Linked DNA regions of Homo sapiens. The protein of the gene in region 1 interacts with the protein of each later gene in a biochemical or structural test. Each region holds a gene or a part of one and is shown on either strand. Other genes may lie near its edges. The genes, in order: DVL3, CYTIP, SCN5A, KCNJ18, SLC34A1, GOT1L1 and PLXNB1.

The links.
Region 2: the proteins of DVL3 (region 1) and CYTIP interact in a test that uses a peptide from one of them, tested with the Homo sapiens proteins (one large-scale study listed by IntAct).
Region 3: the proteins of DVL3 (region 1) and SCN5A interact in a test that uses a peptide from one of them, tested with the Homo sapiens proteins (one large-scale study listed by IntAct).
Region 4: the proteins of DVL3 (region 1) and KCNJ18 interact in a test that uses a peptide from one of them, tested with the Homo sapiens proteins (one large-scale study listed by IntAct).
Region 5: the proteins of DVL3 (region 1) and SLC34A1 interact in a test that uses a peptide from one of them, tested with the Homo sapiens proteins (one large-scale study listed by IntAct).
Region 6: the proteins of DVL3 (region 1) and GOT1L1 interact in a test that uses a peptide from one of them, tested with the Homo sapiens proteins (one large-scale study listed by IntAct).
Region 7: the proteins of DVL3 (region 1) and PLXNB1 interact in a test that uses a peptide from one of them, tested with the Homo sapiens proteins (one large-scale study listed by IntAct).

The regions. Positions count from the first base shown.
Region 1 is NC_000003.12:184,165,203-184,169,077, reverse strand, and holds part of DVL3 (segment polarity protein dishevelled homolog DVL-3), read right to left. Parts: coding exon 3,872-3,875; intron 3,657-3,871; coding exon 3,587-3,656; intron 2,953-3,586; coding exon 2,813-2,952; intron 2,633-2,812; coding exon 2,556-2,632; intron 2,473-2,555; coding exon 2,405-2,472; intron 2,253-2,404; coding exon 2,103-2,252; intron 1,499-2,102; coding exon 1,367-1,498; intron 1,181-1,366; coding exon 1,013-1,180; intron 1-1,012. UniProt on the Homo sapiens protein: Involved in the signal transduction pathway mediated by multiple Wnt genes.
Region 2 is NC_000002.12:157,437,552-157,441,426, forward strand, and holds part of CYTIP (cytohesin-interacting protein), read right to left. Parts: intron 3,541-3,875; exon of another isoform or gene 1,725-3,540; intron 1-1,724. UniProt on the Homo sapiens protein: By its binding to cytohesin-1 (CYTH1), it modifies activation of ARFs by CYTH1 and its precise function may be to sequester CYTH1 in the cytoplasm.
Region 3 is NC_000003.12:38,548,670-38,552,544, forward strand, and holds part of SCN5A (sodium channel protein type 5 subunit alpha), read right to left. Parts: intron 2,890-3,875; coding exon 1,652-2,889; 3' UTR 1-1,651. UniProt on the Homo sapiens protein: Pore-forming subunit of Nav1.5, a voltage-gated sodium (Nav) channel that directly mediates the depolarizing phase of action potentials in excitable membranes.
Region 4 is NC_000017.11:21,691,197-21,695,594, reverse strand, and holds the start of KCNJ18 (inward rectifier potassium channel 18), read right to left. Parts: upstream 3,073-4,398; 5' UTR 2,881-3,072; intron 1-2,880. UniProt on the Homo sapiens protein: Inward rectifier potassium channels are characterized by a greater tendency to allow potassium to flow into the cell rather than out of it.
Region 5 is NC_000005.10:177,382,958-177,387,485, reverse strand, and holds the start of SLC34A1 (sodium-dependent phosphate transport protein 2A), read right to left. Parts: upstream 3,053-4,528; 5' UTR 2,999-3,052; intron 1,792-2,998; 5' UTR 1,745-1,791; coding exon 1,636-1,744; intron 1,500-1,635; coding exon 1,350-1,499; intron 1,266-1,349; coding exon 1,137-1,265; intron 1,064-1,136; coding exon 920-1,063; intron 1-919.
Region 6 is NC_000008.11:37,937,063-37,941,693, forward strand, and holds the start of GOT1L1 (putative aspartate aminotransferase, cytoplasmic 2), read right to left. Parts: upstream 3,063-4,631; 5' UTR 2,968-3,062; coding exon 2,853-2,967; intron 1,820-2,852; coding exon 1,638-1,819; intron 688-1,637; coding exon 576-687; intron 325-575; coding exon 215-324; intron 1-214.
Region 7 is NC_000003.12:48,416,371-48,420,245, forward strand, and holds part of PLXNB1 (plexin-B1 precursor), read right to left. Parts: coding exon 3,207-3,875; intron 2,997-3,206; coding exon 2,874-2,996; intron 2,670-2,873; coding exon 2,547-2,669; intron 2,173-2,546; coding exon 2,079-2,172; intron 1,994-2,078; coding exon 1,821-1,993; intron 1,693-1,820; coding exon 1,541-1,692; intron 82-1,540; coding exon 1-81. UniProt on the Homo sapiens protein: Receptor for SEMA4D. Plays a role in GABAergic synapse development. Mediates SEMA4A- and SEMA4D-dependent inhibitory synapse development. Plays a role in RHOA activation and subsequent changes of the actin cytoskeleton.

The DNA.
Region 1 (3,875 bases):
GAAGGTACTTGGCCCTGATTATACTTTCCCAGTGCTGCTGGGCAGGGTGAGTAGGGTGGGAAGGGGCCAGAAGGAAAGAACAACTTAGGTGCCTCCCCCACTGCTCTCCACCCCGTTCCCAGCCAGGCCTAGCTCTTCATAGCACTGTCTCACTCCACCAACATTACTCATCTCACGATCCTGGCGCCCCCGGGGAAATTATACATTCCTTAATGGCAAGGCTACTCCCACCAATGTTGGAACTACATTGAAGAGAATATAAGGGGCCACCAGGACTGAATACCTGCCTGGGACACCCTCTGCTCACACACTATCGGTACCAGGTCCCAGAGCTCCAAGAGAGCTACAACTGCCCTTGAGGCCACCGGCCCTATTAAGATGAGACATTCCTCCCAGCCCTAAGAAGAGCCAGCCCCAGCCTTCCAAGAGAGAAGTCAGGAGACAGGGCTCTGAGGCTGCCTGTGGAGCCTGCAGCCAAGCCATCAACCTGTCAAGAGGCCAGCAGCCAGCATGGGGAGTGGTGGTGGAGGAAAGCAGTGGTCTGTCAGCTGTTGCCCAGAGCTGGTGATGACGTGAGCCTCCAGGCTGTTTGTTTTGAGGGAATGACTGTGTGCTCCTCGGGGCTACCTAGGCCTCCAGTTCTTCCCTTTAAGCCTACAACACCCTAGCTGAGACCTTGACGAGTGAGAAGGAAAAGGCCTATTCTGGCAGTATCCTCCTGAGCTGGGCCTCTGGGAGGTTGTGAATATTGAGTAAGATGATGCTTTAGGAACAACCAACATGGTACCAGGCAGAGCAGGCACTTAGAAAATGCCAGGCCCAAGAGGGAGATGTGGGCCAGGTGAAGAGGCTAAACTGGACTCTTCTTCCACCATAGAACTCTCAGGCCTTGAATTGGGCCCCTGGCTCTGCTGTCCCCCAGTTTGGGTTCCCCAGAGTCTGCTGCCACTTCCCTGGCTACCTCCCCACTCCCAGCCAGGAGACAGGGCAAGAAGATGAGGGAGGCACATACTGCCGCAGAGGTCACCGAAGATGTAGTAGCACTGCTCGGAGAAGGTGATCTTGTTGACGGTATGGCGGATGAAGCCAGCTTTCAGCAGGTTGCTGGCATACTTGCGGGCCTCCCTCCGGTCCGTGAAGCCTTCCACATTGTGGTACAGCCAGTCCACCACATCTGAGCCTGGGGACAAGGCTGCCAGTTGATGGGGAGGCCCATCTGACTTGGACTCATCTGGCCTCACAGAAGCTATGAGGCTGGGGCTGGCTCCAGATCAAAGGAAGGGTCCAAGGCAAGTCCTGGGCCCTCCGGCCTGCCCTGCCCCATCACTCCCCACCCACCCTGCATCCCACCATGGGGCTCTCTCACCGATGAAAGCATTAGGGATGGTAATCTTGAGCCACATGCGGTCACGGACCTCCAACCCTGATTCAGGGGAGGCCATGGCTTTTACGATGGCAGCCATGTCACTGTGGATGGACAAGTGGAAGTCGTCTAGGCCTGGGGGTGGGAGGCAGAATGGTGAGGCAGAAAGGGGCTTTGGAGTTAGGTAAACAAGAGTTTGCATTCTAGCTCTACCATCTAGTAATTATGGGATCAATGCTGGGAAAATTACTGATTTCTTGGACACTCAGTTTCCCCTTCTGTAAAAAATGGGGATTTTAATATCTACTTTACAAGGCTATTTGAATAAAGGATTAAATAATGTAAATGCAGGTGCTTGGCCAGTGTACGATGTGCATGTGATGATAATCGAAATGGCTGCCGTTTACTGAATGCTTACTTTACACCACACATCGCAATGGTGCTTCACTTATATCCTCTCATTAAACCCACAGGAACCTGGTAAAGTTTATATCGTGAGTCCCATTTTGTAAGAGGAAACTGAGGCGCCCTGGGTGCTCATACAAGTTCAGAAGCAAACACTGTTTAGTGAGGGTTGGAGTGCCCGCTGTGGGGGAGTTGCAGTGTGGGGTTGCTGGAATGAGCCGAGCCCCATCTCCAGCCCTCTCTGATGCTCAAGCAAGAGTCTCCACATGGACCCTCATCAGTCCCCCCACCTGGCCCTGTCTGCTGGGCCCAGGAGACAGGGTGGGACACTCACGCTCTGTGTCAGGGATGGAACTGGTGATGGAGGAGCTGGTGGAGGTGATGGTGCTCAGGGAGGGGCTCATGCCGTATGCAGGGAAGGTGCCGGTCATGGCTGCAGTGTGGGAGACCCAGGCCGCAGGGTCAATGGGCCGGATGGGCTCGCCTGCAGGGAGGATGAGGAGTCATGGGCTACCCACCCCACCCACTGCTGGGCCCAACAGGATAGATATGGGGGTTCTGGGTGAGAGAAGAAAGGAGAGACAGTGCTCATGTATGTAAGCACCAGCTTTAGGACTGAGTCTCCCATCCACTTACTCCTGGGCAATGTGAAGCAACCACGTGGACTTGGGTCCCAGCACTTGGCTACAGTCAGGGTGATGGGCCTGAAAACAAGGGTGTCCTAGTGAAGGCAGGATGCGTATAGGCCAGACCAAGCCCCTTGCCCAGTGCCCCATTCCATCCATACCCCGGTTTGTGCACAATCTCCCGCAGTACCCGGACTGCATCGTCATTACTCATGTTCTCAAAGTTGATCTCGTTTACCTGGGAAAGGACCAGGAGTGGGATAAACAGCTGTGCTGGGGAGGATGAAAAGGGAACTCAACTTGGTAGGTCAGGGAGTCTTCCCCCAACCAAGAAGGGGCCTCTGAAGGAGCAGGGTACAGATGGTAGGACACCTCCCTGCCCTCTATCCACACCACCGCCTAGGATGGGCACTGATACCTGTAACAACATATCTCCTGGCTCGATGCGTCCATCAGCAGCCACGGCCCCACCCTTCATGATAGAGCCAATGTAGATGCCGCCGTCACCACGCTCGTTGCTTTGGCCCACAATGGAGATGCCCAAGAAGTTATATTTTTCTATAGAGAGTAATTTAAGACCTTAAGGGGGAGCAAGGTTCCTACCCGCATTCCCAGCCCATTAGAAAATGGAAAGGGACAGGAACTGAACTGACATTTGCTGATCCTGAATCAGGCACTGCACTCAGCATGCTCAAACATGCTTCCATGGAACCCTTGCTGGCTATAAGGTAGGGACTCAGTCCCATTTTACAGAGCAGGCAACTGAGGTTCAGTGAACTTAGAAGATGACTTTTCTAAGCCAGTAAGTGGCAGAGCCAGGAATCAAACTCAGATTTAAATCCCATAGTTGGGCTCCTTTTACTATATCCAGCTGTCTCATAAAGAGAGTACCTAGGGCAGAAATCGGAGAGCAAGGATGCAATGGCTGAGAGATGTGAAGGAGTGGGCACTCAGAAATCACTTCCTCCAGGAAGCCTTCCCTGATACCATTTTCTGCTTCCACAGCTCTCTGTGCTTATCTCTGTCATAGCCCTGATGGTGAGATACTAAAATGATCAGTTTATGTATCAGCTGATGTTTACGAAAGAGAGCTCCTTGAGGGCAGGGAACATATTCTACGCTCTCTGAACTCAAGTCTGCCCAGTGTCTGGCATATAGCAGGTGCTTGAGAGTGCTGTTTCCTCAGACTCACCCATGTTGAGAGTGACCGTGATGATGTTGAGTGACATGGTGGAGTCCGTGATGCTGCTGAAGGACGAGGACTGGAATAGACAGAGGCCCTGAGCAGCAGGTGGAGGTGGCAGGAATTCACTCCCACCTGACTCCTCCTCAAGGTGAGTCCCCGGTGCAGCCCCCAGCCCCAAGGTTCTCAACACTGCACTAGGGGGATGGGATCTAAGGAAGAACAAGCCTTGGCCCTGCGTAGGAAGGGCTCACAATCTGCCTCCACCCATCCCTAGCCTCCCAGACCCCATACCCGC
Region 2 (3,875 bases), on another chromosome or scaffold:
TAGCCAGGCATGATGGCAGGTGCCTGTAATCCCAGATACTAGGGAAGCTGAGTTGGAAGAATCGCTTCAACCCGGGCGGCGGAGGTTGCAGTGAGCTGAGATCATGCCATTGCACTCCAGCCTGGCGACAGAGTGAGACTCCATCTCAAAAAAAAAAAGAAAAAAAAAAAAGAAAGGAAGAAAAAGAAGACATACAAATGGCTAACAAATATATGAAAAAATGCTCAATATCACTCATCATTGGGGTAATGGAAATTAAAACCACAATGAGGTATCATCTCACACCAGTTAGGATAGCTATGATCAAAATGACAATAAATAATAAATGCTGGTGAGGATAAGGAGAAAAGGGAACTTTCATACACTGTTAGTGGGAATGTAAATTAGTACAGCCACTATGGAGAACAGTATGGAGGTCCCTCAAACAACTACAAATAGAACTACCATATGATCCCGCAATCCCACTACTGGGAATTCATCCAAAGGAAAGGAAATCATTATATCGAAGAGACATCTGCACTCCCATGTTTATTACAGCACTATTCACAATAGCCAAGAGATGGCATCAGCCTAGGTGTCCAACAACAGATGAATGGATAAAGAAAATGTGGTATATATACACCATGGAATACAATTCAGCCATAAAAAAGAATGAAATCCTGTCATTCACAGCAACATGGATTGAACTGGAAGACATTATGTTAAGTGAGATAAGCCAGGAATAGAAAGTTAAACACCACATGTTCTCACTCATATGTGGAAGCTAAAAAAAGTTGATCTCATAGAAGTAAAAAGTAGAACAGAGGATACTAGAGGCTGGGAAGGGTTGGGGGAAGAAATGGATAGGGACACACTTGTTAAAGGATAAAAAATTACAGCTAGATAGGAAGAATAAGTTCTAGTGCTCTATACTGTAGGCTAACTATAGTTAACAATAGTATATCATGTACTAGTTTCAAATAGTTAGAAGGAGGATATTCAACAGTCCCAAAATGAAGAAATGATCATTGTGTGAGGGAGGTGATGGATATGCTAATTACTCTGATCTGATCACTGTACATTCCACGTATCAAAACATCACTATGTATACCATGAGTATGTATGATTATATATCAACTGAATAAGTACAAATTTTAAAAACCAAAAAATTTTAAATGAAAGAAAACAGACAAGAACAAAAAAAAAAATTCAATCCGAAACAAGAAATGCAGAAAAAGTACTAACAGAAAACAAAGATAGTAGTGCCTTAGTACATAGCTGCTAAGTGGATGAATGGTGGCAAGAATTAATAAATTATTAGTAAAATTTTGAGCCTTGTCAATTTTAAATACCCTTTTAGTATGCCGGAAATCAGTGCATCTATTAGGAACTTCAAGATTTCATCCAATCGGTCTTTTGAATCAAAAGTCATTCTGGATAGATTCAAATGTAAAATCTTTTAAACCACAGGACAGACCTGAAGCCTCTATAGATATTTCCCCCACCACTCTACTTCTAACCTTTCTATCTAGCTAATTGACTAGTTAAAGATGAAAATATTTGTCTAGCACAACATGAGAAGCATAGCAGATTTTCAGTTCCTGTGGACTGACTAATTTGGGTTATCAGCAACACCAAAAGTCAGATTAAGTCAAATTACAAATTAGTTTCCATTCGGTATTAGCTAAGAGGCTGTTTCAAGCATCTAACACTTAAACAAAAAACAATTTAAATAAATTAAGTACCGTCAAATTCTCTGACACGTGCCACGTCTTGACACAAAGCCTGCTTGTTTTTGATCCGGGCTGTCAGACTCAGGCGATGTGGAAAGGAATGTTCCCAGGGTTCGAAACTAGCTCACACACCAAACTACCTGCCTAAAGTGAAATGAAGTGTGTCTAAGGTCTTATCAAGGGTTTTGCACTTTGAAAAAAAAAAAAAGTCTTTCCTGCCCCGCTTTCCCTAGGGCGAGCAGCCTTATTCAAGGATCTGACCAGTGGGGTCTATGTTCCCCAGACAGCCCTCCAGTCAGAGCCTTTTCTAAGGGTTGTAGTGATGGCGCCAAAAATCATGAATGAGGAACTGGTGTGCAATTCACAGCATATGCTGGCAACAGCTGTCTTTTATTACACATTATCTAATATGAGAAATCTAGGTTTAGCAATTTGGCAGGCTTGCAAACTACACATTCAATTATGACTGCTGAATAGACAAAGCTTCTTAACTCCTTGCTAGCCATAATACACTGATACCTAGGGTTGGGCTTATGATCACTCTTCTGTTTTTAGTCAGATAACTTAAAAGATCAGGCATTAATATTCAAAATTTAATTTCTTCTGCTCTGCAGTGATTCTACACATTCCTCTTCAGTGGGAAACCAAGACCAAATACTTCAGCTGTCAATTTCTGAAAGACAGGAGTACTTGGCAGCTCAGCCAGATAGCCAGCTCTCCTTAGAGAAGCTCAAAGTTCAACACTTTAGCCACTTCTGGGTTACAGAGGTTACTTCCTCCTGGTCCCCACTCTATATACTCATCTCCTGAAAGTGTTGGGGAGGGTGCGGGGGAGAGGTTACTGATTCCAGAGTGAGGTTTTTTGTCACTGTTACTTGTTTCAAAGGCCCCAAAATTATGTGCTCTGCTCCCTTTCCAGTCCCCTGCCTCACTCCCCAATTCTTCCATGCAACTCCCACCCACTTTTAAATAAGGAGCATTAGGATATCAACGCTCCACAGACTATTCAAAGATGCAACAAAATAATGGAGCTGAACTTAATTTCCTGACGTTAAGTGCCCGGAGAAACCGAAATACAATACCGCCATTTCCAAGTAAGGTCTGATGGTGGGCTCACAGACTCTTCAAGAAAAATTATTGGATATTGACCATGCATGCCACAATACAGATTAAAGAATAATTTTCAAAGTCTTTTCTAGTGAAATTAGCACAGTTTTCTACCTAAAATTGTCATGAGGTGATTAAAATCCTTTGGTGTAGTTCAGGACAATTGGGAGTTACGGCACCTGATGGGTGTGCTGCCGGACACACCGTGAAAGCTCCTGCAGGGCAGAGCCCAGCCCAGCAGTGTACACATCCCAGAGCAGAGCACACATTCCCTATCTGAACTTATAGATGAAATCAGCCTGCCAGAAGTTGCCTATTTAGCAATAATGTGATAACTAAAAGAAAATTAGGAAAAGAGAGTCAGTCTGTGGTACCACTGAAGTTTGTGGACTTGTTTGTCAGGTCCCTGGTTCTCACTATAGCATTCTGTAAAAACTGCTTTCCAAAAGCAACGTACTACATTTATGAGAGTGGGTGGTAAGACAATCACTACTTCTTTGACATCATTGATAGAGACTGTCCTTAATTCCTCCTGTCTCCTTCCTACCGAGCTTTCCATTGCAAAGATTTTTTTTTTTTGTCCTAAAACTGTGTTCACAAGTAGAAGCCATACTGGGGTGTCTGACACTTCCTATCAGTACAGGTAGTGAGATAATATGCACACAGAGAAATCTATCTTTAAATAATTCTGAATGTAAACACCCAATTGATTCTGAAGACTAATAATTTGAAACTACAAGCTAACCAGATATAGCTTTGCAGAAACCAAAGCCAACAACAACAAGAAGTATGAGCTGTTGACGTCAGCCCTGAAAGTGTTGAAAATAACAGTAGGCAGAGAAACACCTGCTCATGTGATTGCCTCACAAGGATCTTGTTGCCTGCAATTTAGTCAGTGCCAAATGGGTGATTATTCTCTAAAAACCAGTTAAAGGAAATGAACATCCATTTGGAAGATTGTGAAATGTTGGGATAAACTTGCATCAAGTCTCATTGATGATAATTGTACGGAATCAGAACTATCATGTACAAGAAGTTTTGTTTTGCTATTTTTTA
Region 3 (3,875 bases), about 150 Mb from region 1:
CCACAAATGTCCAGCCCTCCGACAGCTCGGCGAGGTAGGTTAGGAGCAGCCAGCCCAGAGCCGGCAGGTGAGACTGAGGTGGCCTGGGAGGCATGCGCCCGGTGGAGGGGCTCCATGGGAGAGCTGGAATGGGGCAGCCAAGCCCCTGCCTGCTCAGGCTTCGCCAGTTGACCCTGTTACCTCAGGGTGACAGTTCTCTATGTTAAAAGATTTGCATATGCTAAATAGGATTGTCAGCAGCTGAAGAGGTCCTGGGGGTGATTGGACTAGTAAAATATTTTTCCCTGAAAAAGCCTTTTCACAAGACCTATGGGACCACCTGGATCTTGCCCCAAAGAGGTCCTCTGTGTGGGTGCCATCAGGATCCCGGGCTGAGCCAGAGAGGCTGGGCCTGACCACAGTGCCCCCTCTCTCAAAGGTGCCATGGTTCATTCCCCTCTAAGGGCACGAGAACTGGGCCTGACCATCCCTTTCCCTGCACAGGGCGCAGGGCCAAGCTCCGCTCCCCACTCCCATGTCTCTGTGTCTGGAGAGGAGCTGGAGACCACACAGAAAACTCCTCCGCGTATGGTCCAGAGAGCCCTGGGAGATCGCCAGTTTCCTCTCTTCAGGCAGGCTGAGGGGCCGCCATGGCTCAGGGCTGGTGAACTTCTTAGCCCCAAACCCCCATGGCTCAGCCCTCTCTTCCGATGGCTGGCTGGGCAGGGCCTGCCAGGTTCCAGGAGCAAGGACAAGCTGCATGCCAGGCCGTGAATGGGGCTTGCACCCTTGTGTCCTTTGGTTTTGTTAATACTCTTACAGGAGGGGAAGAAAAGGCAACTATCAGTGCCTAGGGCCAGCCCTGGGACCCAGGCCACTCTCCTCTGGAAGCCTTTTATTTTTGTAGGACTGACAATATGACCTGCGTGAAAACACAGGGGGAAAATGGGACCTTGGAGACAATAGGGGGCCAGAGTGAGCCCCGTGGACAAGAACCCCATCCTTGGGGGGCCGGCAGGGAAAGGCCTGTCTCCCTTAGGCTGGGAGCCTGGGTCCCACGGCCTGTGTCTGGCCTCCGTGTGTGAGGACTGTGTGTGTGTGCTTGTGTGAGTGGGGGTTCAGCCCTCCCAGCATCTCAGGTCAAGTGGGAGGGGGACCCCATTCGACCCCTGGGCAGTGAAGACCTGTGGGAGCCACACTGGATTCCACTTCTGCTTTGAGAACAGACTTCCGGCTGCTCCATAGACACTCTTGTTCAGGGTTAAGAAGAGACAGCGTGAATTGCTGCCCATGTCCATGGAAAAATCCTTAGTTCTTTGCTCAAGTAAAAAAATATCAAATATAATAAATTTATGAAAGCCCATTCACAACATATACAGTCTCAGTTTTATATTTCGCCTCAGCAGCTGGGATGAAGTTGCTTTCCAGAGCCGCAGGGCATTGCCTGACCAGACCAGGTCACAGGTCTATCTGAGGCCTCCAAGCACAGGCCAACTGCTCCGGCTGTCCACGCGGCGCCACAGAACTCTGCCTGGTTGATCCGCGGGGCTGAGGCCCATTTCTTACTCCCAAAGCCAGGAAGGCCCCAGGCTGGTTTGTGACTGACTGCATTTAGGTTTGCCATGGTGAAAAAGGCTGCTTTTCAGTGTGTCCTGGCCAGCCAGGCCGAGGCTCACACGATGGACTCACGGTCCCTGTCCGGAGAAGGGGGGAAGTCGGCGAGATCTTCACTGTGGCTGTAGTCAGACCCCCGCACCTGGAGGTTATCGCTGGTGGCTCTAGTGACACTGTCATAGGAGGGTGGGAAGGAAGTGGAGGAGATGGAGGAGCTGGAGGGTGGGCCAAGGGGTCGGGAGAAGTTCTCACTCATCACGTAGGCGATGAGGCCCTCTCGCTCAGGGGCATCCTCTTCGGAGAGGCCGCTGCCCGCCTGCTGACGGAAGAGGAAGGAGGCATGCTTCAAAGAGCGTTGCAGCAGGTGCCTGCGGAAGGCTCTCTGGATAACCATGGCCGACACCTCTTCGTGCTTGCGCCGGAGTGTGGTGGTGATGGGCTCGTAGGAGATCTTGGATGGGTTGGCTGCCATGAACTTCTCCTCCATCTGGATCTTCAGGGCGTCCATCTCCCCAGACTCCCCCAGGACCCTTTTGGTGAAGGCAAAGAGAATGTCCATGCAATGGATGCGGTCCCCACTCACCATGGGCAGGTCCATGTTGATGAGGCTTATCTGGTTGGGCTTGGCGATACGGAGTGGCTCAGACAGGGCATCGGCAAAGTCAGACAGGACCGAATACTCAATAAACTGAGTGGCCTCTGGGTCAAATTTCTCCCAGATCTCATAGAACATATCGAAGTCGTCCTCACTCAGGGGCTCGGTGCTCTCCTCCGTGGCCACGCTGAAGTTCTCCAGGATGATGGCAATGTACATGTTGACCACGATGAGGAAGGAGATGATGATGTAGGTGGTGAAGAAGAGGATGCCCACGGCTGGGCTCCCGCAGTCCCCCCGAGAGCCATTGCTGTTGGGCAGAGTGGGGTCGCAGTAGGGCGGCCCAGTGTTGAGGATGGGGCTGAGGAGGCCATCCCAGCCGGCCGACGTGGTGATCTGGAAGAGGCACAGCATGCTGTTGGCGAAGGTCTGGAAGTTGAACATGTCGTCGATGCCAGCCTCCCACTTGACATAAGCGAAGTTGGCCATGCCAAAGATGGAGTAGATGAACATGACGAGGAAGAGCAGCAGCCCGATGTTGAAGAGGGCAGGCAGGGACATCATGAGGGCAAAGAGCAGCGTGCGGATCCCCTTGGCCCCTCGGATCAGTCTGAGGATGCGGCCTATTCGGGCCAGGCGGATGACTCGGAAGAGCGTCGGGGAGAAGAAGTACTTCTGGATGATGTCCGAGAGCACAGTGCCTGTGGGAAACAACAGAGACTGTGGCTACTGGTGGCACCTCTGTCTTCCAGCCAGCATCACTGTGCAGGGGTTGGCGGTGGGGGGGGGGTCTCTATATGGCAAGGAGCCAAGGAGAGGCGGCCCTTCCAGGATTGCGTCCACTGGGCATGCTAGGACTCTGCCTGCTCCTGTCTGTTTGAGTCTCCATGTCTGCATCTGTGACCCAGAAAAATGGGTCCTTTGCAGGGTTCCTTCTCAGCCCCCTCATTCCTTAATCTTCAGTGTGTACCTACACAATAGAGCTGTCCTAGGCCCATCTTCTACATCTTGGGTTCTCAGGCCAGAGGGGATCTGCTTAGTATCTTGCCCACCCAGCTTGGGCCAGAACTCAGGTCTTTTAGCTCCTTGCTATTCAAAGTGTGGTTTGAGGACCAGCAGCCTTGGGATCTCCTAGGTGCTTATCAGAAATGCAGAATCTCAGCTCCACCCCAGCCCATTGCATCTTAAGAAGCCCAGATGATTTATGTGCCCATCGAAGGGCATGAAACACTGGCCCAGAAATCAGTGCTCCCTGATGCCACGCCATGGCCAGTGTCTTCTCTCAGCTTCTCTGTGATGGTTCTTATCGCTCTCCTAACTCTGCCTCCTTTGAGGGCGTCACTGCCCCTGGGTCTCCTGTGACTACCTGGGTTTGGAGTTTTAAGGGGCATGGATATAAATCATGGAATAAAGAGTGAAATAAACTTGTCTTATATGGCCCAAGTGCCCTTTCCAGACTCCTTATATAATAATGTCACTGACTGACATGGGTCCAGTGTTTACGATCACTGGGGCAATGGGCCGAGCACTTTATAGCCATCATTTCATTTAGTCCTTCCCATTGTCCTAGGAAGTGAGCAGATGCCATCATCCTTATCTTCCAGAAGAGGAAACAGAGGTGAGGTAACTTACCCAAGTTGCCACCTAGTGAGTGAGAAGCTGGGATTTGACTCAGACGTTCGGGCTC
Region 4 (4,398 bases), on another chromosome or scaffold:
GGAATTCAGGCCCTCAGCCTGTACTCCCAGCCACCACCTGCAGAGCCTTCCCAACGCCAACCTTGGAGCCAGTTGTGAATAGCTGGGGGGGTGGATGAATGAATGGGTAGATGGATGGATGGATGGATGGATGGATGGAAGGATGGATGGATGATGGATAGGTGGGTGGAAAAATGAATGCAGGGATGAATGGGTAGGTGGATGGATAAATGGATGAGTGGGTATATGGATGAATGAATACATGGGTGGGTGGATGGATGGATGGGTGAATGAGTGGTTGGGTGTGAGGGTGGATGGCTGTATGGAGGAAGGATGGATGAGTGGATGAATGGGTGAATGGATGAGTGGATGAATGGATAATAGGATGGAAAGATGGATGGATGGATGGATGGATGAATGGATGGATGGATGGATGGTTGGATAGATGGATGGATAAGTGTGAAAGTAGATGATTGGATGGATGGATGAACAGAAGGGTAGATGGGTGGGTGACTGAGCGGATGGGTAGATGAATGAATGGAGGGATAGATGGGTGAATGGGTGGATGGATGGATGGATGGGTGGATGGATGGGTAATGGGTGGGTGGATGGATGGATAGACGAATGGGATGGATGGATGGGCAGATGATTGGGTGGATGGATGGGTGAGTGAATGAGTGGATGGGTGAGTGAAGAAGTGAATGGATAGAGGGATGGCTGGGTGGATGGGTGGGTATATGGTTGAGTGGGTGGATGAACAGATTAATGGATGAATGGGTGACGGGTGCATGGATGGATGGATGGATGGAATGTTGGGTGATGGATGGGTGGAGTGAATGAGTGGATGAGTGGATGGGTGGATAGATGGACAGGTGGATGAGTGTATGGGTGGGTAAAGAAATGAATGGATAGAGGGATGGAAGGGTGGATGGATGGACAGATGGGTGAATGGATGGGTGGGTGGATGGGTGGGTAGATGGATAGATGGATGGGTGGATGGGTGGATGGATGGGTGGGTAGATGGATAGATGGATGGGTGGATGAGTGTGAGGGTGGGTGATGAGTGGGTAGATGGATGGATAGGGTGTTTGGGCAAGTAGGATAGATGACTAGATGGATGAGCAGGTGGGCACATGGCTAACTACATGGATGGGCACACATCAGTAATTTGCCAGAGATTTGCCTTGGGTACACATACATCCTACATGGTCCCTGCAATCCCAAAGATGCAATTTCCCCACCTGTCAAAGGGATCCCCCTGCCTTCCTATCCAGTGTGCCGTGAGAATCAGAGAAGAGGTTGGTGGGAAGGGGCTCTGAGGATCTCCACGGTGAGCCACCTGACATGCTTCTCACCTCCGCACCTCCCAGCCATGGAGTTCATGGGGCCTGCCCTTTCCAAGGTTACAGCCGAGGCTGGTTTGTCACACTGGTTTTTCTGGCTGGAATTAAGGCAACTGTTGGTGAGTCACCCCCACATCATCAGCCTCCTGGGACAGGTGACAGTGGTTTACAGGCACACAGACCTAGATTCAAATCCCAGCTCTGCCCCTCATAAGCTGTGTGACCTTGAGTGAGTCACTTCCCCTCTCTCAGCTTGTTCTGAAATGGGATGGCCTGCCTGGTCTCTAGTGGCCCTTCAGTCCCTCTTCACCCTCCAAGTCCCCCAATCCCCAGCCCCTTCTTCCCCATCCCTCATCATTCTGGGAGCAGAAGCCACAGGCCTACACTTTGCCTCTCTCAGCCATTCCATCCTCAAAACTGATGGGGACACAGAGGTTCAGAGATGGATGGGTGGATGGATGGACGGGTGGATGGATGGACAGGTGGATGAGCTGCAGAGTTTCAGAGAGGTTCTGTCACAAGCCAACATCAAACAGCTGGGGACCTCCACGGCAGGGACTTGGGTCCACCCCCTTCCCCGAGTGAGCCAACACTGTGCTTGGCCCTGCATGCTTGGCAGCTGGCTGCAGTCATCCCGATGCTCACAGCCCTGCCTTGGAGGAGGGACAATTCTCCCCTCTGGACAGATAGGAAAACTGAGGCTGAGAGAAGCTAAGTCACCTGCACAGTCACCTGGAGCTGGAACTCTGAGCAGCGAAGGTCGGATATTGCCACAGGGCCATGGGGAGCCAAGCAGGGGTGGGGGCCAGAAGTGTGGGCAGCAGCATCTATCCACATCCTGCTGGTCACCTGGCTTGCACCAGGCTCTCCCAACCTCGTCCCTCACTCCCTACTACCTGAAAGGGGCATTCCCCAGACCACAAATCCAGCTGGATTTGTTTTTATCTAGGAGGAAGGCAAAATTAGCTCTACTCTACACAGGGGTACTGAGACGTAGAGCAGAGAAGCGAATTTCCTGAAGTCACAGGGCAGGGCAGCACCCTGCAAACAGGAGCCAGCCTTCCGGATGCCCTGGCCAGAGCTCCCGCCACCTGCAGGGGCCACAGCAGCCGCCATGTGAGCTCACCCCGCCAAGTCCCACAAATGCTTCCCGGGGTTATGGTCACAATCCTGGATGGGGAGGTGGGCTGCAGGGGCAGTGCTTCCCCATGACCACGACTGAGGGCCAACAGGCCGGGCTGGCCCACAGCGTCCCGCAGGGGAGGGCAGGGCCTGGGCTGAGGATGGGGCTGAAATCCCCCACGGAACAGGGCAAGGCACTTCCCCTTCCTGAGGCTCAGCTTCCCCTGAAAAATGAGGCTGGTGTCGCCTGCCAGGCCTCTCAGAGGGTGTGCCATGAAATTGAAGGTGGTGACGAAGCTGCAGTCCGGGCACTGGGCCTCGCCCCAGCGGGTCTCTGGGAGGTGGCAGCCGTCACCCTCCCTGGAGAGGCCTGGCAGCCCCCCAGCTGACTGGGGCCTGAAACTCCCCATCTGCAAAATGAGGAGACCCCACACACCTCGGGAGACTGTCACGAGGGTAAGCCAAGCCCTGGCTTCAGTATCTGTCCCACAGAGACGATGCAGCAGTGTGGGTCCTGCAGGCGTTCACTGTGACCGGCGTTCCTGACACCACGTAGGCACTGAAAGCAGAAACAGGCTTCCCAACAGGACGGAAAGCTGACTGTGCCCAAGCCTCCCTGTGGCCTGCTGGATGTCCTCAGAAGCCCCCCTGGCCCGCAAGGAGCCACAAAACGCACAAGGGCAGGATCTGCCTCGCTGTTCCATGCTCGGGATGCGCCCAGCCCACAGAGGATGCTCAGAAAGTGGAAGCTGCAGGAACCTTGAGTGACACTGACCCCTCACATTCTGTGGCGTAAAGATGGGGGCTGGACATATGGACCCCAGAAAGAGGCTGCACCAAGCGGCTAGAAAAGGCAAATGTCCACCCTTAAGCCCTGAGGTGAGGCCAGGTCAGAAGATTCTGGCCCCACAGGGTGGACGACAGTCACACCAAACACCAGGGAATGTTTCTGACGGTATTTTTATCTTGAGAACATCCTTCTTCACAGAGGGTGGGGGCAGGAGGGACAGAGGGTGTCCTTGGCCCCAGGCCCCTGGGAGAAGCAGAGAACAGAGGCCCTGCAGTAGTGCCCTCTGCTGGGGTGGCCATCACAGACACTGCCCCATCCCTGGGCTCCATTAAGTCCCACGAACAGGGGAGACCTGGAGGGTCTTGGGGCCCTTCTAGGACTCCTGGCTCTGCCCCAACTTGCTGTGTGACCTGGAGCAGGGCTCTGTCCCTCTCTGGGTCTCCCTCTTCAAGTCCTCACTGGGCACCGAGGACTTGAAGAGGAAGCATTGGGCGCCTGCCTTCATGGGGCACCCTGCCTCACAGGGCAGACGGTGAGAAGTCAGCAGTCATAAGTCGCTGGGCCCTCTGGAGCCCAGGGGAGGTGTCTAACCCAGTGGCAGGAGGGGTGCTTCCTAGAGGAGTATCTGCCAGTGGGGAGGCAGCAGCGAGCAGCAGGGGTGACAACCCCGCCTGAGACTAACCATAGCACAGTGACACAGCTAAGAGCACCAGAGTCCTGCAGTCTTGGTGCAGATTCCAGCTTCACTCTCCAGGCACTGGGCCTTGGGCAAGACCCACCCTGACTGTGTGCAAACCAGGGGGCTGGCCCAGCTACTCCACAGAAGCCCTGCCAGCCCTCCATTCCAGGATCTAAACTATTCGGGGTTTGTGGGGAAGGTGTGACGAGATGGGCACAGCCTTGACACCATCATATCAGGGAAGCTCAGCGTGTGCAGGCACAGAGGCTGAGGCATCACCCCAGGGGGCCTCAGATGTCATATTAATGAGCCTAGACTTGATCCCAAAGGCAATGGGGAGCCCAAGGGCCATAAGAGAGCTTGAAACTATAAGAGTTCTGGGGCAACAAGGCATGAATTCAAATCCTGTCTCCATCCCTTCTTGTGTGGCCTTGGGCTAGCCACATAACCTCTCTGAACCGCAGTTTTCTCACCTATAAAATGGA
Region 5 (4,528 bases), on another chromosome or scaffold:
GGCTCATGTCCTATGTGCAAATAGAGATTTGTGCTTGTGTGTGCACACATGCCCCAGAGTGTGATGGTTAGTTTTTTTGTTTGTTTGTTTTGAGACAGAGTCTCGCTCTGTCGCCCAGGCTGGAGTGCAGTGGCATGATCTCGGCTCACTGCAAGCTCTGCCTCCTGGGTTCATGCCATTCTCCTGCCTCAGCCTCCTGAGTAGCTGGGACTGCAGACACCTGCCACCACGCCTGGCTAATGCTTTTTGGTTTTTGTTGTTTTTTTTTTTTGTATTTTTAGTAGAGACAGGGTTTCACCGTGTTAGCCAGGGTGGTCTCGATCTACTGACCTCGTGATCTGCCCCCCTCAGCCTCCCAAAGTGCTGGGATTACAGGCATGAGCCACTGCGCCCGGCCAGTGATGGTTAGTTTTATGTGTCAACTTAGCTAGGCTGTGGTACCCAGTTATTCAACCCAACACTAGCCTGGGTGTTCTGTAAGGTGTTTTGTAGATGCAATTCACGTCTACAGTCAGCTGACTTTAAGAAAAGGAGATTATCCTTGGTAACCTGGGTCAGCCTAATCCAATAGAATGAAAGGCCTCAAGCAGAACTGAGGCTTCCCTGAGAAAGGAGAAACGCTGCCCTGTCTGGACTGCAGTGTCGGCGCCCACCTGAGAGTTCCCGCCTGCCCTTCCAATGCCCTGGCCTACGGATTCCTGACTTGCCCAGACAAACTACCATCGGGGAAGCCAGTTCCTTGCCATAAATCATCTGGGTCACATACAGCTACAGTTGGGCTCCTCTCATGTCCCTGGCTGATACAGGAGTCAAGCTGAATGGAGGCCAGCCTTACTGGGGTCACGCTCCCCATTTGCCACCCTTCCCAGCTCCTGGGGTGCCCCTCCAAGCTCTTCCCCACCCTGGTGGGCCAACTCACAGCCAGAGGAGACCATGCTGACGATGATGGATGTGGAGGTGCTGGAGCTCTGCACCAGCACGGTCACCAGGATCCCCACCACCAGCCCGGCCACCGGGTTGGACAGGATGGCGTTATCCTTGAAGATGTCACCAGCCACCTTCCCTGGGGAGCATGAGCCAGCGTTGTCCAAGGCCCTTCAGGAACCCCTCCCAGGTCTCCTCCACCCGGGCCCTACCTCCAGCCAGCTGGAAGGCCGAGCTGAGCATGTCCAGGGAGCAGACGAAGAGGTAGAGGAAGGTGAGCATCAGTGGCACCTTGAGCAGCATGGCGCCAGCCTGGCGCAGCTTGGGGACCAGCCTGGACTCTGGATGGGGGAAGCCATGAGCATAGTGGGCAGAGGCCAGGGCAGGGACTGCTGCCGCCTCTGCCACCCCCAGCCCAGGCCCACCTGGCTTCTGCTCCTCCTCCAGGGCCAGCTTGGCAGGCAGTGGTTCATGGCGCTCCAGGACCTCCCCACAGGGGCAGGTGTGCTCAGCAAGGGCCACAGGGCCCAGGCTGGGGAAGGCATAGGCAGAGGTCCCCGGGATCCTGTGTAGGACTAGGGAGGGAGCCTGGTCAGGAGCCCCAGGGCCCCAAAGTGGGGAGGCGGGGAGGAACAGGCGGGGGAAGTGGCCTCATCCGGGATGTGGGCAACCGTGGGCAACCAGGGTCCAGGGTGTGGGAGCAGCACTTACCCTGAGGGCTGGGCACGTAGGCAAAGGCCGTCCCTCGCATCACATGCCCCCCACGGACTGGGAGTGGGGAGACAGCAGGGGACCCCAGCCTCTCTCCGTAGGACAACATCCTGGGCACCCACTATGAGGTCTGCAGGTCAGTGGGTCTCAGCAACGCTGAATGACAATAGCTGTGTCCGGGACACTCATGCCCACACACCCTCACCTGCACAAACCCCCATGGCGCATGATTCCAAATACACACCTAGCAAAGCACACCCTCCATCCTCACCACACACACACACCCCTCCGAGACTCACACGCACAAACACACACCCAGCAAACCACACCCTCCATCATCACCACCACAGCCCTCCGAGACTCACATGCAGACTCACATGTGCACATCTGTGCTGGGCACCTGCATGTGAGTCTCGGAGGGGTGTGTGTGGTGGTGGTGAGGTGATCATTCATTCACCATTCACTCATTCAATGAGTATTATTGAGCTCTAGCCCAGGCTCCGAACCAGAGGCTTGGATATAGCATTGATAAAAGACACTGAGAACTGAGGACGCCCAGCCTGTTTGGGGCTGGAGGGGGCCAGGGAATACGTGGTGTTGGCAGTGGCTGCAGGTGTGGGCTGGGGCTGGGCCGGGCTTCAGTTTTGCCCACCTGGAGAGCAAGGAGGAGCTGCAGACACCTGCCTTCTCATGGGGTCAGCTGGGCACACACGGAGATCCCCTGGGCCGGATCCCGAGTTCCTGGGTTCCCCTCACAATGAATTCCTTTCCCCATCCACCCCCTCAAGGGGCAATGAACAAACACTGACAGGCTTGCCTCAGCCCCCCCTTGTCCCCGCACTGCCCCAGGAGTCTTGGCTATTGGGGTGGAGTGCCCTGATCTGCCTCAGCACTCCCCGCATTGTCCCAGCGTCCTTGGCTGTTGTAGGGGTGTGAAGAGTTGAATTCAAGTCCTGAAGGAGCAGGAGTCCTTTTTTTTTTTTTTTTTGAGATGGAGTTTCACTCTTACCGCCCAGGCTGGAGTGCAGTGGCACAATCTTGGCTCACTGCAACCTCTGCCTCGTGGGTTCAAGCGATTCTCCTGCCTCAGCCTCCCAAGTAGCTGGGATTACAGGTGCCTGCCACCACACCTGGCTAATTTTTTGTATTTTTAGTGCAAACTCGACCTCAGGTGATCCGCCCACTCGGCTTCCCAAAGTGCTGGGATTACAGGTGGGAGCCACCGCGATTGGCTGGACTGACATGTTATATGGGGCGCGGTGGGGGTGGGCGCAGATAGGACACAGATGAAGGGGCTGGGGTGCTGGGCTGTTTCCTACTCAGAGCTGGGGGTGGGGTTGGGATGTGAGGGTCCTGGGCTCACCTTAGAATTCTGTGTTTCAGCTTCTGCTCAGCAGCTCAATGAAGCCTCCAGGACCCTGAGGAGAACTGAGACCCTCCTCTTTATACTCTTGGGTCAAGGGCAAAGTCCCTGGAACCCTAGCTGCCCTCCCTCTGTCCCCCAATTAACCTCACCCCTGAGATTCCTCCCAGTTAATTGCTAATCGTCAGCTCTGCATGGGGAATCTATGGTCAGGTTCTTCCCATCAACCACGACCCAGACACATCCCCCGCCTGCAGGCAGAGACCCTGATGCCACTCAGCACCTTGTTCCCAGGGTCCCCTCGTTCCTGGCCTGACAGGACTCCCCAGGGAATGACCCAAACATCCTATGGCCTTCGGAGGTTGCAGTGAGCCAAGATCGTGCCACTGCACTCCAGCCTGGGTGACAGAGTGAGACTGTCTCAGAAAAACCAAACCAAACCAAACAAAAACATCCTATGGCCTTGCCAAGCGTCGGGGTGTCTGTAAGTCTCCCAGGGGGAGCTCAGAGGAGAGGGAGTGTGAGATGAGGACCTAAGCTGGAAAGGCCGTGGAATGTTGAATCGTGGCAGGTCTCTAATGCCCGACCATGGGTCCAGGATGTGAGTCTGAGTGAATGTGGAGCCGCTGGCCAGACTGGGATGGGCCTGATCTGCCTTTTAGAATGGCCCCCGGGGTGGAACCCGGATATATGGAAGGGAGCCTGGAAGCGGAGGGGCCAGTTAAGAGGCTAATGGTCCAGGCAGGAGATGATGAGGCCTGAACTCCGATGGGAACGGAGGGGCTGGGGAGGACAGGTGCATCCCAGGGACATCTGACCAGTAGAATTGGTGACGGGGAGGGAGAGAGGAAAAGGAAATAGATGGGAGTCGGGTCTCTGGATCTTTGGCTAGGGCTGGGTTCATGCCCAGGTAGGAGGGTGTCGCTGAGTCACGGAAATGCAATCAGTTCTCAGTTCTTGTGTCAGAATCTCTGGGTCCTTGGGCTTGAAGGTGCTGTTAATGTCACATCGAGTGTCTCCACCTATGAGCAAACTGACACCCCCACAGCGGGCCCAGAGACCCCGGCCCACGTGACCTGTTTCTCTCCATTCCCCCGTGCAGTTCAGACCCTTGGCAGGAGCAGCTGAATCCAAGGTGCTCCTGGTGAACTGGGGGTGTTTCTCCTTTTTAATAAGGTTGTGCTTTTTGATATTTTTGAAGTTTGCCTTCCCTGCTGTCACGGAGCTCTGGGTTTAGTGGGGGAGGCAGTTAGCTATCGATCAAATCCATCAAGAGATATAATTCCAAAATGCTGCTGATTTACACAGCCACCACTTCTAAAGATTTATTTTGGGGCTACAGCCCTAGTGAAAGTGAGAAAATGCTGGATCTGACCAGAGCTGCTGTTGGGACTCATACAAGCAGCAGAGAAGGCAGCTCCATTCCAGCACCAACGTATCTCTTGCCAGCCTCTCTGCCATTTCAGCACCTCCCTGCCTACTGCCTGCCTCCTCCCTGGCCAGTGACAGAGTCTGTGTGTCCCCCTGGGT
Region 6 (4,631 bases), on another chromosome or scaffold:
GGTACAGACGGTCTCATCAGGCTTCACCCCCACCCAGGAGTGGCGGCCCCAGGGCATTTGGGGGTGAAGTGCTCCTCCATGTTAGTTACCATTGAAGGGCCAGGCAAATTCAAACCTGGAAAAGGTCTTGGATGACTTAAGAGGTGTGGGGAGGAGAGGAACATTAGGCTGTAAGTCAGCTCTAGGGAGGAGTTTCTGAGCGGGGCCCCTCTACCTCCACCACATTGAGGAGTATGTCGGGGTCCATGCATAGCTTCTTGGGGTCCCAGACAGAGTATTCATAAACTGTAAAGCCCATGTCCTGGAAGACGAGTCCATGCAGTTCTGTGGGAACACAGCCCCCCACTAGCTGGTACATGGGAAACAGAGAGACGGAGACAGAGGTACTGGAGTGTGGGGCTGAGAGTCACTGGCTGAAGGTGGGACATTAACAGGAAAAGGACATAAATAGCTTGGCTTGTCTGCCATTTTGCTCATGACAGAGAATGAGGGATAACAGTGAAGATGGCAAATGGGGTGAGGATTAGGAACAAGGGACGGGGATTGCTGTTCCCCTCATCTTGGGTAAGACTAACCTTTTTGAGAAGAGATGATGTAAACTATACGAGCATCCTTATGCCAAGCTCTGAGAAACTGGACGCCAAGCTGGAAGGCACCACTGTCACCAACAGTGTGTACACCCCCTACCTGCCAGCAAGACATAGACACAAATAGGCCAGGTGTGGTGGCTCACACCTGTAATTCCAGCACTTTGGGAGGCTGGGGTGGGTGGATCACTCGAGGTCATGGCCAACATGTTGAAACCCCGTATCTACTAAAAATACAAAAATTAGCCGGATGTGGTGTTGGGCATGTGTAATCCCCGCTACTCAAGAGGCTGAGGCAGGAGAATCACTTGAACCCGGAAGGCGGAAGTTGCAGTGAGCGGAGATCAGGCCACTGCACTCCAGTCTGGGTGACAGAGTGAGACTCCGTCTCAAAAAAATAATAAGTAAATAAACATTAAAAAATAAAAAGAAATAGACAGAAATAACACTCTAAAACAGTAATGGAGGCGAGACGCAGTAGCTCATGCCTGTAATCCCAGCACTTTGGGAGGACGAGGCAGGGAATCCCCTGAGGCCAGGAGTTTGAGACCAGCCTGGCCAACATGGTGAAACCCTGTCTCTACAAAAAATACAAAAATTAGCTGGGCGTGATGGCACATGCCTGTGATTCCAGCTACTCAGGAGGATGCAGCACCAGAATTGCTTGAACCTGGGAGGTGGAGGTTGCAGTGAGCTGAGATGGCACCACTGCACTCTAGCCTGGGTGACAGAGTGAGACTCTGTCTCAAAAAATATATATAATAGGTTAAAAAATAAAACAGTAATGGGAATACTAACACCACCTCCAATTCAGATCATTCCTGTCTTGAAAGAGCTTTCAAATCAGCAGTGTGAGCAGGTGGGAATACCACTGGACTGAGATTCCGATCCTGACTCGATGGCTAAGGACTTGTGGACTCTCTGAGCCTCAGGTATCTCTTTTATCAATACCAGGGGGCCCTCCGAGGTCCCCTTCGGGTTTAAGGTTGTGCAGACCCAGATCGCCACTCTCTGTGTCTAAATGAGCCAGGGGAGGGCCCACCTTCTCACCCTGTTCTCCACAATGGCTTGGCTGTGCTTTCCAAAGAGGAGTGCTAGAGAGGCCTGGATGAATGATTTCAGGCCCATGGTGGGCAAGTACTCATAATTCAGGGAGGGATCCTGTGAAATCTGTAGTCGAGTCTTCTGCACCACGAGAGAAACCCAGGGATGGCCTTCATTTGTCATGCAGACTGTGAGGAAAACCACAGAGGGAGCTCCAGATGCCTGGTTTGGGCCCCCAGGGCTGAGCTCTGCAGACAGCCTGCAAACAAATCTCTCCTGGACTCCATGGGGCTGTGGGAAGGTGCCTGTGAAAATACAACTTTCCCTTTTCTTTTCTCCTTGATGAAAAGAATATGCTGTTAGTGAATGTGTATTATTTTTGTCTTTTTAAAAAAGACAACTGAAACCTATGCCATTTTAAAGGTTAAAAATTATACAAGCCCAGGATTGGTGGCTCAGGCCTGTAATCCCAGCACTTCGGGAGGCTAAGGTGGGTGGATCACTTGAGTTCAGGAGTTCAAGATCAGCCTGGGCAACATGATGAAACCCTGTCTCTACAAAAAAATACAAAACAGCCAGACATGGTGACCAGCGCCTGTAGTCCCAGCTACTCAGGAGGCTGAGGCAAGAGGATGGTTTGAGCCCAGGAGGCAAAGGTGGCAGTGAGCTGAGATCTTGCCACTGCACTTCAGCCTGGGCAACAGAGTGAGGCCCTGTCTCAAGAAAAAAAAAAAAAAAATATATATATATATATATATATATATATATATATATATATATGCAAAATGAGAGTTATAGGTAGATGAAGCTAAATAAAGGTAACCCTGACTTTCACAGTGGTGAGCCCCAGTTGCATAGCAGAAAGCTCAATCTGGAGAACCATTCTTGGTTCAAGAACAGGAAGAGAAAGAGAAAGAGAGAGAGAGGAGGTAAGAATCTGAAGAAGTGTGGGATGGCCATGCAGGCCCCCAAGCATAGAGTTGTGGAAGAGGACATAGCTCTCACCAAATCCCTAGAAGCCCCCAGAGAAGGGCAGAGAGCATGGAATGACCTGGGACCTTATCTGCACTTTTCCCCACTGGGTAATTCTGTTAACAAGAAAAGATCTCTCCACCCACAGAAGCTTGGGCTGCACCCCTCCCCCTGCAGCAGGGAACACTGTCCTCCTAGAGGCAGTTACCATCACTTAAGTCTTATACTTCAGAACTGCTAGGCATCTACCTCTATAGGCTAAGAATATCTTGTTCGGGTAATCATCTTGTTTGTAGGTCTTTAACAAGCTGCCCTCTAGCTTGTGGGCGAGGGGCACATCCATGAACACTGAAAGGGTGGGCATAACTGAAACGAAACTGGAGCCAAGACTATGTGTCTCTGCTCCTGTGTTCCGCTTCTGCCCAGAAGTCTTCCTCCAAGGCTGGGCCGGGCAGTCCTGCCTCTTCCTGGAACCTTGGCAGCCCCAGTGCAGAGGCGCTGGACAACGGGTTGCCAGGGCAACAGAACCTCATGATCTTTGTGGTGGCGATCCACAGGGGCCACAGGAACATTCCAGGGTACTTGAGGAGAATCCCCTCAGACAGCGGGCAGGGCAGGATAACAATCTCCGGAATTCCCAAGCCCGTTTCCCTCACTCAATGCCTTCTCTTCTCTAGCCCCAGGTGGCTCAGTCCAAAGTAACAAGCCCACTCCTTAGATGACAGGGCAAGGATAATGGGAGATTACTTAACAGATACAATGTACATTGTTGGGGTTATGGATACCCTAAAAGCCCTGACTTCACCACTATGCGATGTATGCATCTAACAAAATTACACTTGTACTTCACACATTTATACAAATTAAAAAAAAAAAAAAGAAAGAAAGACATAGGGCAAGGCAGGCAGCCAATAAGCCAGATAGGGCTTCTCCTGCAGAAGCAAAAACCCCAGATCACACACCAATGCAAGTCGAGGCATTGATTTCCATTTTGCAAAGTGCCCCAGATTTCAAAAGGAATAAAAAGCAAACACTGTTTTCTTCCACAGTTGTTTTAATAAAGAATCCTATTATTAGAATATAATTGGCAACTCACTAAGCCAGTCCTATTTCTCTCAGTTATCTAGAGCCAAGACTTCTACATATGTTTGTTAAGTTTCTTTTTCTTTCTTTTTTTGGTTTTTTTTTTTTTTGAGATGGAGTCTCACTTTGTCGATAGTCTCGAACTCCTTGCCTCAGGTGATCTGCCTGCCTTGGCCTCCCAAACTGCTGGGATTACAGGCATGAGCCACCACACCTGGCCATTTGTTAAGTTTCAATGACAGCCAACTAGTAAGTATAGACAGCAGAGGCCAAGGGGAGAAAAGAGCCAGCCTCTATAGAGTCAGTCTGCATATTGCTTGCTTTCTTTTCCTTTTGATGTTTAATGACTCTCTCTTTTTTTTTTTTTTTTTTTTTGAGACAGAGTCTCGCTCTTGCTGCCCACATTGGAGTGCAGTGGTGTGATCTCGGCTCACTGCAACCTCTGCTTCCCAGGTTCAAGAGATTCTCCTGCCTCAGCCTCCCGAGTAGCTGGGATTACAGGCATGCGCCACCACACCCAACTAATTTTGTATTTTTAGTAGAGAGGGGGATTTCTCCATGTTGATCAGGCTGGTCTCAAACTCCAGACCTCAGGTGATCTGCCCACCTGGGCCTCCCAAAGTGCTGGGATTACAGGCGTGAGTCACTGCGCCCGGCTTTTTTTTGTATTTTTAGTAGAGACAGGGTTTCACCACGTTGGCCAGACTGGTCTCAAACTCCTGACCTCAAGTGATCTGCCTACCTCAGCCTCCCAAAGTGTTAGGATTACAGGCATGAGCCACCACACCCAGCCTGATGTTAAATAACTCTTTAAATGATTGTTGCAAACACTGTTGATGTCTCACCCAGAAGGCCTTCACCACCAATGTGCCCGGCCCCAGCTGCTGCTTCGCTGGTGGACAAGGCTTATATGCCTGTGTTCTCTGGAGAATTGTGCTTGGCTGG
Region 7 (3,875 bases), about 140 Mb from region 1:
ACACCACGTCCTCTTCCCGGCACCTCCACCGCTGTGGCGCCGGCCACCTCCTCCCCACTGGCCCCGGTGATGCACACGAGGCTGTAGGCACAGGGCAGGCTAGGGGGTGCCAGGCTGCATCAAGGGCCCCTCAAGCTTACCTGGCAGCCCCTCTCCCTGCCCTACTGTCAGGTGGTCTTCCCCTTCCCATGCTCCATAAGATTGACAGAGACCCTCTCTCACTTTGGAGGGAATTCTTTATGACACATCAGAAGGCCTTGGTATCTGAGAATTAATATTTGTGGCTTCAATCATTTAAGTTCAACCCCAGGGGCCCCCAATAAGGAAGAATTTATCTGTGGCATAAATTTACAAAGGGGCCCTGTCAGCCTGGTTGTGGGGCGAGCTGCTGAGCAAGTGAGTGGGCACAGCTAGCCGCCCATGTCCTCCGCCACGTCACATGCACAGTACCCACTCAAAGCATGGTAGAAACTTGATTTATTCAGGAAAAAGAGTCCCTGAAAGCCTCTAGTCAGACAGGGAAATACAGGTGAAGGGAAAGTGAACCATCTAAGAAAATGCTGGTTCTTAGCCAGAAAATAGAAGCTTGGGCAAATTAAACTTCCAGAGTGTTAAGCCTGCAGTGGCTCAACTCAGTGACATTGTCACAGTTGTTGCAAACACTAGGAAGACACAAGTGACGTGTGAGCCACCCAGGGGAGGCTCCAGACAGAATATATGCTAATTGCTTCATAAATCACAGCAGTCTTATGGTCTGGAACACTAACAGTCTAGATAGTCACCGTAAGTTCTCGGTCATAACACATTCAGGGGACACTCCGTGCTCCAGGAGAGTGGTTCCTTGTTTCAAATACAGATTTGGGGGCCCCACCGTGGGCCTCCTGAATCCAGATGTTTGTGTTGGTTTGGGACAGGATCTGCAGGTTACCCTGATATTCAGCCACGTTTGGGCCCTGCTGCTTATGGACATCTCCTTAGGAATGTCCTGCGTGTGTACCTTTGGGGCCTGCAACCGCTGGCCAGGTTACCATAACCCAGGAGCCCCAGGAAGGCAGCAGGGGTCCCTAGAGACGACAGTGGAGCCTGGCCCTCGGCCAGTGTGCCTTTCTGAGGTGTGCCTTCCAAGTCTACCTTCCTGAAGAGCCTGGCAGCCCAGGACAATGCCTGGGGAAGAGTGAGCTGGTGAGAAGGCCAGCCCCTGAGCTTATCTGTCTGATCTGAGGGTCCTGCTGCCACAGCTATTAATATATCCACAGTCCCTCAGAAGACCAGGTGAGCAGAGCAGGAAGCAGAGCCACGAGTCAGTTCTGGGCAGTGACGGGCCCAGGAAGGATTCCCCAGCAGCCCAGGCCAGGAACCTACAGGTGTGGTGGGTGCTCAGGGTCTTCAGTGGCAACGCTGGCACTCGGGCATTGTGGCCAGGATCAAGGAACAGGGAGAGAGGGGGGCAGATGAGCGGTGGGTGGGAGGCCCCAAGCAGCAACGCCAACCGCGGAGGCCCCAGGCTGCGCCGTGCTCCTGCTGGGTGCAGCCAGCTTACCTGCTGGAGACCTCGTACTCCTGGGCATCCACAGCACAGGGCACTCCAGCCACCGTGACCATGCCCAGCACATCCTGCACATGCTGGCCCAGGTTGGAGCCCCTGATGGTGACACGGGTGCCTCCGTCTACAGGCCCAGTCAGTGGCTCCACCTGTTCCAGGACAAGGACTGCTCACCTCTACTCAACTGGAAAGGCAGCCCCAACCTCCCACCTTTGGGCCCCCACACCCTCCCTCTAAGGGCAGCACTGAGGAAGGGATGGCCAGCCTTTCAACAAACCGAGTGGATGAGGGGCGCTGGGCACTGGGTGGCCACAGCCTCAGCCTCACCACAGGCCTCCCGGGTCACACAACGTGGACGCTCCCCCTCACACCACACACAGCCATACTGGGGCATGGCAGTTTGGCAGCGGCTGCAGTCTCCATGTCCCACGGAACAGTCATACAGTACCACTGGGGGTGGCAGAGACACACGTGAGAGGCAGGCCTGGGAGAGCCCTGCTACCACCGCCAGCCCAGCAGCCCGCAGGTGGCTCACCATGCAGCCCCTCAGCACTGTCCACACGCAGACGGCCGGCCCGACGCAGAAACAGCCCCACACGGAGCTCCGGCTGCAGAGCCTCATAGCTGAGCTGGAGAAATGGGAGTGGGTTCAGAGTCAAGCACTGGGGGAAGTGTCAGGCCTGGGGAGGGGTTAGTCAGAGAAAGGACTAAAACGACCAGTTAGGAGCATAGGGTCAGAGGGACCCCATGGGGCCACAAGTTGGAGGGCAGAGCCAGAAATGGAGTATGGGGACCCCATGGGGTCTCAAGTTAGAGTTCAGAGCTGGGATGCAAGGACTCCACGGGGCACATGGTCAGAGGTCAGAAATGGGTGTGGAGACTCCCTCAGGGCGACACGGTCAGAGCGTGGCTCTGGAAAGTGTGGTGCAGCCAGCTACAGTTGGCAGCCAGCCTGTGGCCAGTGCAGTGCACCCGTGCCCACCCAGGCGCTCATGGTGTGCACCTGGTGCTGCTGGCAGGTGACATGGCACTGGGTATCTGGAGGTGGCTCACACTCGACCCGGGCCTCAACCACCACCTCGAGGCCCTCCAGCTCCATCACACACTCATTGTCTCCTGGGCCATCCTGAGGGCAGAGAACACAGCTGTTGGGCAGCTTCAGGAGCTGGGCCCAGGGAGTCCTGCAGGTCACCCAACAGATCCCCCAGCACAGCTTCTGGGTTGGAGTTGAGCCCTCGGACTCTGCCCTCCTCCTGCTCCCCAGGGCTTGTGCAGAGTTTCTCAACAGCTAAGGAGGCTGCAAGGACAGCGGCAGGCAGGACACACTGACCTGGAAAAGGTGCAGGTTCCTGCCTAGCAGCCGGATTTCCCGCTCCACATGGACCGGCATCAACGTGGAGCCCTGAACGCTCTCCACACAGGGGCAGGAGCTTGCCCCCAAGGTCGCCTCTTCCTGCAGGCACCAAGGGCAAGGCAGTCTATGGAGCCCACCCTGCCCAGCTCAGCCCTCTGCCTTGCCAGATTCCAGAGGCAAGGCCGGTGTGGGGCTGCAGACTCCACCCTGCCCCTCACCTCCTCCCAGTGCAGAATCACAAGGCAAGCTAGGGGTAGCATCTTCCCCACATCCCCTCCCCTGAGGCCTCCTTCCTGGGCTGGGCCTCACCAGCTCCCAGAGCCCGGGGGTGTCATACTGGTAGTCGAGGCTGGACGGGAGGATGAGGGGGGCGGGAGGGCCCTCAAGCTCTGCTGAGTCTCCATCACCTGAGAGGAGGGTGGAAGTGGAGAAGGCGGGTGCGTCACCCCCCGTCCACTCGTCCGCCTCGGGCAGCTCGCCGCCTTCTCTCGTGAGCCAGTCCAGGGCGGGCTTCACGGAGCCCATGGCCCCTGGGAAAGTGGTGGCAGGAACAGTGGCAGGGGGCAGGTCCAGGGGCACTGTGGGATGAAGAGCCTCGGGGCCAGGGTCTGCAGGGGGCACTGCTGCTACCTCTGAGGGTGACAGCGGGGAGGCCAAGAGGTCCTCAGGTGTGGCTGAGGGTCTGAAGTCAGTGGGGGCAGGGACAGCGGTTCCAGGTCCATTTTGGGGGCTGGGAGGGGAGGGCTCCTCATGGAGAGGCGACCCTGTGGAGCCAGGGGAAGATATGGAGCCAGAACCTGCCCATGGCCCCCAGGGGCTGAGCAGGGAAGGACTAGCCCCAGGTGAGATGTCCGAAGCTGTGGCTGTGGAGGGAGCCCCAGGCTCCACGGGAAGGGTGTCAGGAGCAGGGGTGGCCAGGGCTTTGGGGGCTGTGGGTGGGGAGGGGCTGGGTCCACCTCTTGCAGGAGGGTCTGGGGA